Homo sapiens: one gene and its partners. The protein of the gene in region 1 purifies or fractionates together with the protein of each later gene. This does not show direct contact. Each region holds a gene or a part of one and is shown on either strand. Other genes may lie near its edges.

Region 1 (3,750 bases):
CATTAAACCTGGCCACACCACTTGATGGGATTTTTATGCTAACATGGTAATCTGAAAGTCGAGCTTGACTCCACATGTTAGCTCGAGATGTAAGTGACACTGGAGCACTTTGATTTTATATGCATGTATAAGATAAAGTAGCGAGATTTGTGTAATTATCTTTATGGTTCCAAACAAGTTATTTTGTGAAGTAGTTCTATAATGAGTACAAATGTAGGCGAATCAAAATTTTGAGAAGGGAACTGGCCCTAAGAAACACTTGTTATTAAAAAGTTTCAATGCTCCTCTTCCCTCTGATATCATAAAATGTTTCAAGTGCTCTATGGCCAACACAGTAAGTATCCTCTTACCAAATTCTTCAAAAACAGCATCAATCTTTGAGTCAATCCCTGGAAAGTCTTCAGCTATTTGCTTGGGAAAGCCTGGCTCCATGGAATTTCTCTTCTCATCAAATCTGTACCAAGTAAAAGAAACAGCTCAGCATTGCATAGAGGCCATGTTACCGAACATCTTAGATCATGTTAGGTTTAATGTGGAATTTTACTAAACTTTATAAATACTGCAAATAAATGCCAAGCATATTTGGGACTATAGAAATATGTGACTTTAATGGTACTGTAAAGAGTTCTGAAAGCCATATCTCCATCCGGAACAGGGGCCGCATCCTGCTGTATGTAGCACATGCTGTTTGTCATCATATTTCTTAAGCCTGGACAGAAAGAACCTTAATCATCTTTCTGTCACAAAGACATGAAAGTGTGAACATATATATAAAGTGAATTGAATCAACATCTAAAATGCAATTTTAATTCCCTACCACAATTGGCCCATATATGCCTGCTGTCCCCTCCCCTGCACATCTAAATCTTCTCTGGTGGCCTCCTGGGAAAAGGGATTAGGATAAGAAGCAAAGCACAGTAAGTGTGTTTTTAGCCCATTGGCTGGATATCAGATGGTCGGCCTCGATGTCTCAAAGTCTGGCCAAATGACCCAGGAATCAACCTGTCTGTGAGTGTTGGGTTGTATCCATAAACTGGACTGCTATTGATCATCATCTCTTAAATGAGCCATCATTATCAGGTAGAGGTGACAAGTGGGTGAGGTTAGAGGTAGCCCTTGAAAATCATATAGTAGTGTTAGGAAGACAAAACAAACACACAATGAGACAGTGACAAACACACAGTGAGACAGTGAGCCAAACTAAAAGACAATGGGAAGGGAACGCTAAATTGCGGTCTGGGTTCTCAGAACATTTTCCCAATGGGTCTAAAGTCCACGAGGGAAAGCTGCATGGAGGTGATGAGACTTGAGCCAGGACTTGAAGGATGGGCAAGATTTGAATAGGTTGAGGAGAGAAGAGGGGGCTCCAGGCAGGTGGGGTGACAGCACCAAGGGAAGCACCAGCCAACTGCACTTGGGACTGAAAGCAGGAGAGCCTAAGGTGCTGCTGTTTTAAAGTAAGAACTTTCCCACAGTTGTCTGAAGTCCCATCCTTCCTACTAAGAGAGAAGCAGGCCTAAGGTTGGGGTGGGGGATTTCCTTAGTAAAAGAAACTAATTTCCCTAATTAGGCTCCATACAAAGTCATTTCTCTTGCATCTCACCTCCAGTATTTGTCCTCTACAAAGAAATATGTTTTGTTCTTTTCCTTATCAGAAATGGCTGCATCGATTTTCCTCACGGTTGGAGGGAAACCTAGGGTGTGGATGCCTCTTGGGTATCCAGCTCGTACCTCATTTCCTCTGATAGCCCAGAATTGATTTCCTGTTAAATATAAATAATTCAGAGTCATATTGAATTATAACAGTTAAGCCCTTTCGCTTTAGAAATACACTTTAGCATCTTTGATTTTCATGGTAAAGTAGTAGCCCAAATTTTAGATTTAGTCACCAGCTTACAGTGGGCTTTTCACAAAAATTTGCAGACTGAATGAATGAACTAAGGTCAAATGAGAGAATTTACAACTCTGGGTAATTTATCTTCTTGTCTTTATTTTTATCATCTATGAAATATAAATACAATGATATCAGCCCTGGTTATTTCTTCATTACCGTTGACTACTGTATTAGCCAGAACTTGTAGTAGGGAAAATTAAAGTGTTGTTCAATTTCTTATGAGAGGGTTTACTTTGGCAAGTTAAACAAATGATGATATAGTAATTACCTTTAAAAATGAAAACGAGGTCCTTGCTAGTAACTTCATATGCGGCATCCACGCCTGAAGGAAGAGATGGCCAAAATGAAGAGATCAAATGCAATTCAGGTTCAAGCTTCCTGAGGGATTTGCGCCAAAAGTGCCTAAAATATATGTAAAAAGAAATGTAAATTGAAAAACAATCTTTCACCTTTAGAATATTTTCCTCACCGTCTTGCCTCACCCAGCTTCCCCCATTCTCTCATCTTCTAGGCTGGATGACAGATAGAAATCAGGTATATTGCCATTAGAAAATTTCTTTCCTTTTTCTTCAGAAGACTGTAGTGAGTCTCCCGTCATAGGTTTCCAGAGTAATGTCTTCTATGAAAGAAAAATTATTCTATCGTGCAAATGAATTAGCCCAGCATAAGCTTTAATTACCTGCAATGTATGCAAAACAGTGCGTGTGCTATACCCTCTTCCAAAAGCTAGGCCGTGTTTGTATACGTGTATGTGCTGTGTAAATATATTCTTGTATGTGTGTAGAAAGATTCTGGAAGGATGCACAAAAAGTCTTGACTCTGGATGAGTACAGGGAGAACTGGGAACTAAAATTTTTAATTTGCTTCTCATTTGTGCTCTTTGAATGTTTGTCATGTGCATATTGATCCATCAGTAAGTAAATTACTTGATTAAATGTAATGTTGATCCTGATGTCATTTTTAAAGGAAGTAAAAATAAAATTATTATTCGAAAGATCTACTCATGCCTTTTGAAAAGTAACTGTGACTTAAGACATTTGGAAACAGCAATTAGAAGCTAAGAACCAGATCAGCCTGTGCCTTCAAAAATGAACCTGACAATTTTAGGAAAATGTGGGAAAAGGCAGCACCAGATCTAAATGATTCCAAGCTCAGAAGAAACGTTTTTGTTTTAAATGTCTAAGAATCTCTATCAAGTTTCTGCGTGTTTTCCTTTCTAAACATTGTAGATTAAAATGGTAGGAAAATATAATTTTTCAGCCTGACCTGTCTTTAAAGATCAGGATTTCTCCCCTCAGAGTGCTGACAGCATCAAAGGACAAAGCAGGATCACAGTTGGCTGGCGTCCCAGGTTCTGGAGGGACAGGTTCCGTGGGTACCAGGGGGGTCTCAGGGGAGTCAGGGGGAGGTCCTAAAGGGAACATTAGGGGAAATGTGATACGTTTCAATATATGCCCATTTGTATGCTTTCCAAACATTCTCACGGTGCTTTGAACTAAATCATAAATACTTTATGTAGCATTTGAAAGCTCTTCTGAAGACCATCATTGCAAAACTACAATGGCTGATTTTCCCAGTGTCACTCACCATAGAGGGACTGAATGCCATTTATATCATCTTGAGACAGGCGGAACCGAGTCAGGTCTGTGAGTGAGTGATAGAGTGGGTACATCAAAGCTTCAGTGTTGGCTGAGTGAAAGAGACCCAGGGAGTGGCCAATTTCATGAGCAGCAACGAGAAATAAATTGGTCCCTATTTAAGAAATTGAGAACAATAGTTACTTATTTTTTAAATACATGTGCATTACACAGGTCTGCTGTGCATTGTATTGGTTTTTACTTCTTGGAACCACACAG
Region 2 (3,750 bases), on another chromosome or scaffold:
TTTCACCATGTTGGCCAGGATGGTCTCAATCTCTTGATCTTGTGATCCGCCCCCCTTGGCCTCCCAAAGTGCTGGGATTACAGGCGTGAGCCACCGCACCCAGCCTTGTTTGTTTTTTTTAAAGAGTGGTTGAGGCTGGGCGTGGTGGCTCACACCTGTAATCACAACACTTTGGGAGGCCGAGGTGGGTGGATCACCTGAGGTCAGGAGTTCAAGACCAGCCTGGCCAACATGGTGAAACCCTGTTTCTGTTTCTACTAAAAATACAAAAATTAGCCGAGTGTGGTGGCATGCACCTGTAGTCCCAGTTACTCGGGGCTGAGGCAGGAGGATTGCTTGAGCCTGGGAGGCGGAGGTTGCAGCGAGCCGAGATCCTGCCACTGCAGAGTGAAACCCTGTCTCAAAAAAAAAAAAAAAGAAGGAAAAGAAAAAAAGAAATGGTTGAGTGTCATGGTTTTTGGATGTCCAATGGCTGGTTCCCATCCTTGCTCTGCCACTTGCTAGCTGGTACCCTAGACCAGTCACAACCCCTCAAGGGGTCTCAGTTTTCACATTCATAAAATGGGGATAATCATAAAACCCTTGTTGTCAGGATTTTGTGGAAAGTGAATGAATTAATACAGTTAAAGTGCTTAGGGCATGGCCTGGCATCTAGTAAGTAGGCACTACATGTTAGTTTTTATTATGGTTATTATTGTAAGCATCAGACTCAGTCGTGGGATCACCTCCTCCAGGAAGCCTTCCCTGATTGCCCCAGGTTCAAGCTGTCTTCTGGGCTTCCCTAGTGCTGTCCGTGACTTCTTTGGATCATGTCTGGCCCAAGATGGGGGTTCTGAAAGAACATGCCCTCAGGTGTTGGACTCTTCCCTCTCTTCCAGATGTACAGGTGGATCATCTGAATCTCCTGAAACAGTTTGAACACCTGGACCCTCAGAACCAGCATACATTCGAGGCCCGCGACCTGGAGCTGCTGATCCAGACGGTAATGGGAGTGGGTCCGGAGGCAGAGGATTGAGGGTAGCTTTGCGGAAGGGGAGAAGGGGACAGAGTCCCAGACGTGAGCCAGCTCACCATTCCTGCTGGTGTTCTCTGAGGTTGGAGGCTGGTAGAGGGCTGAGTCGTTTCTTTTCTTTTCTTTTTTTTTTTTTTTTTGAGACGAAATCTCGCTGTTTTCCCCCAGGCTGGAGTGCAATGGCACAATCTCGGCTCACTGCAACCTCCGCCTCCCGGGTTCAAGCGATTCTCCTGCCTCAGCCTCCCGAGTAGCTAGGATTACAGGTGCCTGCCGTCACGCCCAGAAAATTTTTGTATTTTTAGTAGAGACAGGGTTTCACCATGTTGGCCAGGCTGGTCTCGAACTCCTGACCTCAGGTGATCCACCCGCCTCAGCCTCCCAAAGTGCTGGGATTACAAGTGTCAGCCACCGCACCCAGCTCTTCTTATAGTGATACCCACCGTAATCTAGCAGGCCATCATCTTAACTAATTACATCTGCAAACACTCTATTTCCAAATAAGATCACATTCTGAGATTCCAGGTGGACATGAATTTGGGAGTGTGGGGGGAGTATACTGTTCAACCTGGTATTGTTAACTCCATTTTACAGAGGTGGAAACTGAGGCACAAAGAGGCTGAGTAACTTGCCCAGTGTCACAGAGCTTATGAGATTTGGTCACAAAGCAAAGCCTAGATTTGAACGCTGGGCAAAATAGTTAGAAACCTCTTGTTCTTTTTTTGGTTTATTTTTACTTTTTTTTTTTTTTTTTTTACCTGAGACAGCGTCTTGCTCTGATGCCCAGGCTGGAGTGCAGTGGCATGATCACAGCTCACTGCAGCCTCAACCTCCTGGGCTCAAGCAATCCTCCCACCTGACCCTCCTGAGTAGCTGGGACCAGAGGTGCAAGCCACCGCACCAGGCTAATTTTAAAAATTTTTAGTAGACACAAGGTCTCGCTGTGTTATGTGAGTTAGTCTTGAACTCCCGGGCTCGAGTGATCCTCCCACCCTAGCCTCCCAAAGTGCTAGGATTCCAGGCGTGACCCACCTCTCCTAGTCTGACCTTATGTTCTTGGCCACCTAGCTGTACCTGAAATACATAAATACTAAGTTCACCACATATGTTGTTCCTATTTACTTATTCCTCCAAGATCTGGAGATTGTGGAGGACTTGAAAGAGGTGGGTTGAAGTTGCTATTGTATAACCGTCCCAATCTGTTTTGAATAAAGAGAAGAAAGTGTGTTATGGGGCAGGAGCAGTCATGGAAACCAAAAAGGGCGACATCAGGCTGTGCGCGATGGCTCACGCCTATAATCCCAGCACTTTGGGAGGCTGACGTGGGCGGATCACCTGAGGTCAGGAGTTTGAGACCAGCCTGGCCAACATGGTGAAACCTCGTTTCTACTAAAAATACAAAAATCAGCTGGGCCTGGTGACACATGCCTATAATCCCAGCTACTCGAAAGGCCGAGGCAGGAGAATCACTTGAACCCGGAAGACAGAGGTTGAAGTGAGGCAGTGAGCAGAGATTGTGCCACCGCACTCCAGCCTGGGCAACAGAGCAAGACTCCCTCTCAAAAAAAAAAAAAAAAAAAGGGACATTAGGACACGAGACGTAAGAAAGACAGGTAGAGGCTGGGGCTGCCCTCAGCCAGGTTCAGGGCCAAGGGCCTGCCATTTACAGGCTGGAATTGGGGGCTGGGCAGAGGGGGCAGAGGGGAATGACCCTGTGCCTTTCCCCAGGCCACCCGGGACCTTGCCCAGTACGACGCAGCCCATCATGAAGAGTTCAAGCGCTACGAGATGCTTAAGGAACACGAGAGACGGCGTTATCTGGAGTCACTGGGAGAGGAGCAGAGAAAGGAGGCGGAGAGGAAGCTGGAAGAGCAACAGCGCCGGCACCGCGAGCACCCTAAAGTCAACGTGCCTGTGAGGACCCCATTTGTGCCCATCCACTCCCTACCACATCCAGTTCAAACGCAAGACAAGAAAGCAGTTAAAGAACTACAATTCCCAGGGGCCCTTGAGGCAAAAAAACTCCCTGTTACTGTACCTGGCTGCCCCAGGGTCTGCTGGGAGTTGTAGTTTTCTTAGTTTTCTTGCTTGAGGGAGATGATGTTTGTTGGATGAGGGTAAAGGGATATTTGGTTTTATCCCATGGCATCCAGACTTCTTGCTCATGAGCTCCTGGCTCTCCCCTCCACAGGGCAGCCAAGCCCAGTTGAAGGAGGTGTGGGAGGAGCTGGATGGACTGGACCCCAACAGGTTTAACCCCAAGACCTTCTTCATACTGCATGGTAAGGTGGGGAGGGAGTTCCAGAGCCAGGATGAACCCTAGATTCTGACCCTTCTAGGACCTGAATGCTAAGAGGGGTGTGTCTGTCCCAGGAGGGCTTAGTCAGGCCCAAGAGCCAAGCCTATGTCCCCTGGTTGACCAGACAGCCCTGCCTCTCCCGACTACAAGGCTAGGATCTGCATGGAAGGGTTGGGCCTCTTTTCTAGCAAACACCAGACCTCGGGGTTCTAAGGACAGCTGGTGTCCTCTGTAAGCAAACCAGGCTTGGCTAGGCCTGGGCCCTCTGCCCACAGCAGCCCAGGAGAAGCCCTGGTCCACTCTGGGAACCCTGTCGCTAGGAGTGGGTTGTTCCCTAAGAACCAGGCCTCCAGAAGCCTGGAAAACCCTTTCTCTTTTTCTTTTTCCTTTTTTTTTTTTTTTTTGAGATGGAGTCTTGCTCTGTTGCCCAGGCTGGAGT
Region 3 (3,750 bases), on another chromosome or scaffold:
AGGAGACCAAAGCTCACAGAGGTTAAGGAAGGCACTGAGAGTCACAGAACAAGCCCTTGATGGCCGGCACACCCTCACCTTTCTTCTTTTTTTCCCCCTTCTCACCTGTGTCTGCTTTCGGGAACAGCAAACCCGACAGGTAAGAACCAGCCCTCCCCCGTGGAGGCTTCAGGCAAGAGGAAGAGGACAGGGAATGGGCTGATAGTGTGCCCACAGGAGAGGGGATGCCCGGCTGCCCCCACAGCTTGTACACGTAGCTGTACTTGGTCCTGGAAACCCTAGTCATACGGGTCCATGGTCCTTTTCTTACCATGCATTCCTGGGGCCTGAATTGTGTTCACACATGAACATGTGCCACTACTAACTGGACTGTTCCGCTTGCTTCTCCTAAAGTAAACGCAAGGACTCAGAACCCCGCACCAAATGCCTCCTGAACAATGCCGACCTCGCCCCTCACCACCCCAAGGACCCTGTGGAAATGAGACGCATTAACTTCCAGACTCCAGGTATGTACTTATCCCTGGTACCAGGGATGCCACCAACAGGGGAGATAGCTGGGGAGAAGCAGTAGCTGCCACCCTGGGGGCCCCTCATTGGCCCCCTCTGAACTATGCTTGGTGCAGCCACATTCTGGATTCCCAAATACCTCCAACCCTACATGGATCTGGGCTTGGAACTCATAGGTTGGTTCTGCTTACAACCAAGTGAGGCTTTTTTTTTTTTAAAGTTAACATTTAACCAATGGCTGCTGTCCTCTTCAGGAGCCTAAAGACGATGTTTAAAAAATGGAGAAAACACAAATAAACCCCTCATTTCTTTGGGCAGAAAGAGCTATTCTTCTGTTTATGTCTCTGGTTTTAATGTTCCTCGGTGGTGGGAGTTGAGGTTTGCCCTCAGCCATTTTCCACACTCCCTTGGGATATATCCCTAGCAAGGTACAGAAATTATACCTGCCCAATGCCCTGTACCTCTTCCCACCATGGCTGCCAGGGTTCATGCCTCTTTATAGTTCCCTGTAGATTAAAGTCACCTGACAGTCCAGGAGAACTGAATCAAGGCCTTATCCTTGATCATTTTCATGTATGATTCACAAACTCTACCATCTCCTCCCTCTTCATGGGCTCATGCCAGCTGCTTCTAACCAAATAAGGAATTTTTCATTTTACTGATGGCTGCTATTCTCCTTATGGGTTCACAGCCAAGTTACATCTGTCCTTCCAACTGTACCCGGTCTCCACTTCGTATCTCTGAACTGGTTCATATCAACTCTATTTTCCAACCAAATGAAGATTTTAAACATTTGTATTTCACTGATGTCTTTAGTCCTCCTTAAAGCCTCATGCATAGCCTCACATGCCATTCCTGATGTACTTTCTTTTTTTTTGTCTCTGGACTGGCTTGTGTCACTTCTGTTTTCATCCAAATGAGGAGTTTGACCATTAGTATTTAACTGATGGCTGCTGTCCTCATAAAGGGATCATGCAGGGCCTCATGTATCACCCCTCGTGTATTCTCTTCCCTTTCTTTCCTCTGTACTGATTCGTGTTGCTTTGGTTTTTCAGCCAAATGAGAATTTTAAATGTGCATGTAACTGACGGCTGCAGTCTCCTGAAGGGATCATGCAGAGTCTCACAATTCACCGCTAATGTGCTCCCATCTCATTTCTGTCTCTGGACTAGCTGATGTCTGTTGTGTTTCCATCCAAATAAGGATTTTCAACATGTGCATTTAACTGATGGTTGCTGTCCTCCTTGAAGCTCATGGCATGGGCCCATATGTCCTTTCCCTGCTCCCCCAGCTTCTCCTTCACCATCCTGCATCCTCCTTCCTCAGAATGCCCTCTGCTGACCTCAACAGAGGGGACCCAAGGCCAGGCTGGTCTGGGGGAGGGGATCTGTAGACAGAAGAACCTAGCACTTTGGAGTCCTTCCAGAGTGACGGGTCAAGACCAGGATTGACTGGTGTCCAGCCAGAGGGGTACACAGTTAGCAGCTATCGTGAGTCCTCAGGTGGGGGCCCAGGTGGCTGTACATACCCCCCGTTGTCCGCGTTGCTCTGCCCTTTGCATCCGCCAGCCAGTGAGGGGTGGGGGAGGCAGAGGTGGGACCCCCCCCTACCCCCTGCATGTTTTCATTTATTTATTGTTTGCTGTTTGCAGATTCAGGCCTCAGGAGCCCCCTCAGGGAGCCGGGGTTTCACTTTGAAAGTTAGTTCTTGTGTCTGTTTTTGGCTTCCTTTCGCCCCCGCCCCCGTTCATTTCCTCTTTGGTTTCTCCATCGTGTCTCCTGTCTCTGTCCACACGCCCACCCATCACCGGCCTTTGCCCACCTGTCTTGTGCTGGCTCCTGGAAGAGGGCAGGGGGTTGGTCCATTGGGCCCTCAGGTGGCTGTGTGTGACTGCTGTGTGTGTGGTGTGTATGTGTGTGTCAGGGATGTGGGTGAGGCACGTATGTACCCAGGACGTGCCCACAGGACAGGCAGGCCCCTTAGATGTGAGCTCTTGGGGGGCACCCAGGACAGCTAGGGACACATGGAAGTCTCAGAACATTAAATGTTACCAGCTGGTCTGGAAACCACCTGAGAGCTGAACATCCGGTACACAGGTCCCAGGAGAGGTCAGGGTTCTGCAGACCCAGATATCGGGAAGGGAGAACCGAGCCCACACCCAGCACCTTCGGCAGCCATCCTAGGGGGCTTGAAAGGATAAGAGCTCTCAGGCCAGGGCCTTCTTGCACCTGCTCCTGCCCCAAGCAAGCGCAGGGACAGATGGGGACCCCTCACTCCTCTCACGTACACACACACATACTGTTTCCCCTCCCTAGTCTGTCGCCTCTACCTGGAAGCGGATTTCGTGCCTCTGATCCCAGAGGGACAGAAAGGGGTGTCAGTCGCCCACCCAAGGACAGTATTTCCAAAGCACAGCCGGCTGCGTCTGCAATTTAATTTCTGTGCCACACACTTGCTTCTTGGCTCGAGGCACTGGGAGCTTGACATCCTCTGGGGTGACCCTTCTGCCAGCCCCTGCACCCCCAGCTTGGTTGGAAGGAAACAGGATGGGCCAATGCTGTGATCCAGGCCCCTCCAGGGGTGTCAGCCTCTGCACGGAGCAGAGGGCCTCAAACCTGCTGCCTTTAGAGTCCCCTAGGCCTGGGGTCCCAGCCCCTTCATGAGCCACCCTGAGTCTTCCCCTCCTGCCAAGCCCCACCCCGGCCATGCCCTTCTAACCACAGCTCACCCATCGCAGACTCACACGTAGATCACCCCCCTCCCCCGAGTCCCCGGCTGGCCCCCCAAGTGACCAACCCCGGCGGGGTCTGCTCCACCCTGTAGGCATGCTTAGCCACCCGCCAATTCCCATCGCAGACATGGCGGAGCACACGGAGCGGCTCAAGGCCAACGACAGCCTCAAGCTCTCCCAGGAGTATGAGGTGAGCCCACCCCCGCCTCCCACCCTCATCACCTCGGCCTCACAGGCACCTACCCTGACACCCGCGCTCTCCCCTTCCTCTGTAGTCCATCGACCCTGGACAGCAGTTCACATGGGAACATTCCAACCTGGAAGTGAACAAGCCGAAGAACCGCTATGCCAACGTCATCGCCTATGACCACTCCCGTGTCATCCTCCAGCCCATTGAAGGTAGTTCGGAGATCCCGGGTCTTAACCTGCCCTTCCCCACTGCATGGAAAGTGCTAGATCCCATGTCTCCCCTTGGGCCACTGAGGCCTGATTCTGGTCATAGACCTGGTCCA

The links.
Region 2: the proteins of MMP3 (region 1) and NUCB1 purify together in Homo sapiens (affinity purification with mass spectrometry; 3 studies listed by BioGRID and IntAct, with this or other methods). This does not show direct contact.
Region 3: the proteins of MMP3 (region 1) and PTPRS purify together in Homo sapiens (affinity purification with mass spectrometry; 4 studies listed by BioGRID and IntAct, with this or other methods). This does not show direct contact.

The regions. Positions count from the first base shown.
Region 1 is NC_000011.10:102,836,948-102,840,697, forward strand, and holds part of MMP3 (stromelysin-1 preproprotein), read right to left. Parts: intron 3,647-3,750; coding exon 3,482-3,646; intron 3,306-3,481; coding exon 3,161-3,305; intron 2,297-3,160; coding exon 2,163-2,296; intron 1,764-2,162; coding exon 1,604-1,763; intron 455-1,603; coding exon 351-454; intron 1-350. UniProt on the Homo sapiens protein: Metalloproteinase with a rather broad substrate specificity that can degrade fibronectin, laminin, gelatins of type I, III, IV, and V; collagens III, IV, X, and IX, and cartilage proteoglycans.
Region 2 is NC_000019.10:48,910,271-48,914,020, forward strand, and holds part of NUCB1 (nucleobindin-1 precursor), read left to right. Parts: intron 1-659; exon of another isoform or gene 660-878; coding exon 879-982; intron 983-2,740; coding exon 2,741-2,926; intron 2,927-3,203; coding exon 3,204-3,294; intron 3,295-3,750. UniProt on the Homo sapiens protein: Major calcium-binding protein of the Golgi which may have a role in calcium homeostasis. Acts as a non-receptor guanine nucleotide exchange factor which binds to and activates alpha subunits of guanine nucleotide-binding proteins (G proteins).
Region 3 is NC_000019.10:5,215,176-5,218,925, reverse strand, and holds part of PTPRS (receptor-type tyrosine-protein phosphatase S isoform 1 precursor), read left to right. Parts: intron 1-127; coding exon 128-139; intron 140-393; coding exon 394-506; intron 507-2,158; coding exon 2,159-2,206; intron 2,207-3,330; coding exon 3,331-3,428; intron 3,429-3,513; coding exon 3,514-3,637; intron 3,638-3,750. UniProt on the Homo sapiens protein: Cell surface receptor that binds to glycosaminoglycans, including chondroitin sulfate proteoglycans and heparan sulfate proteoglycan.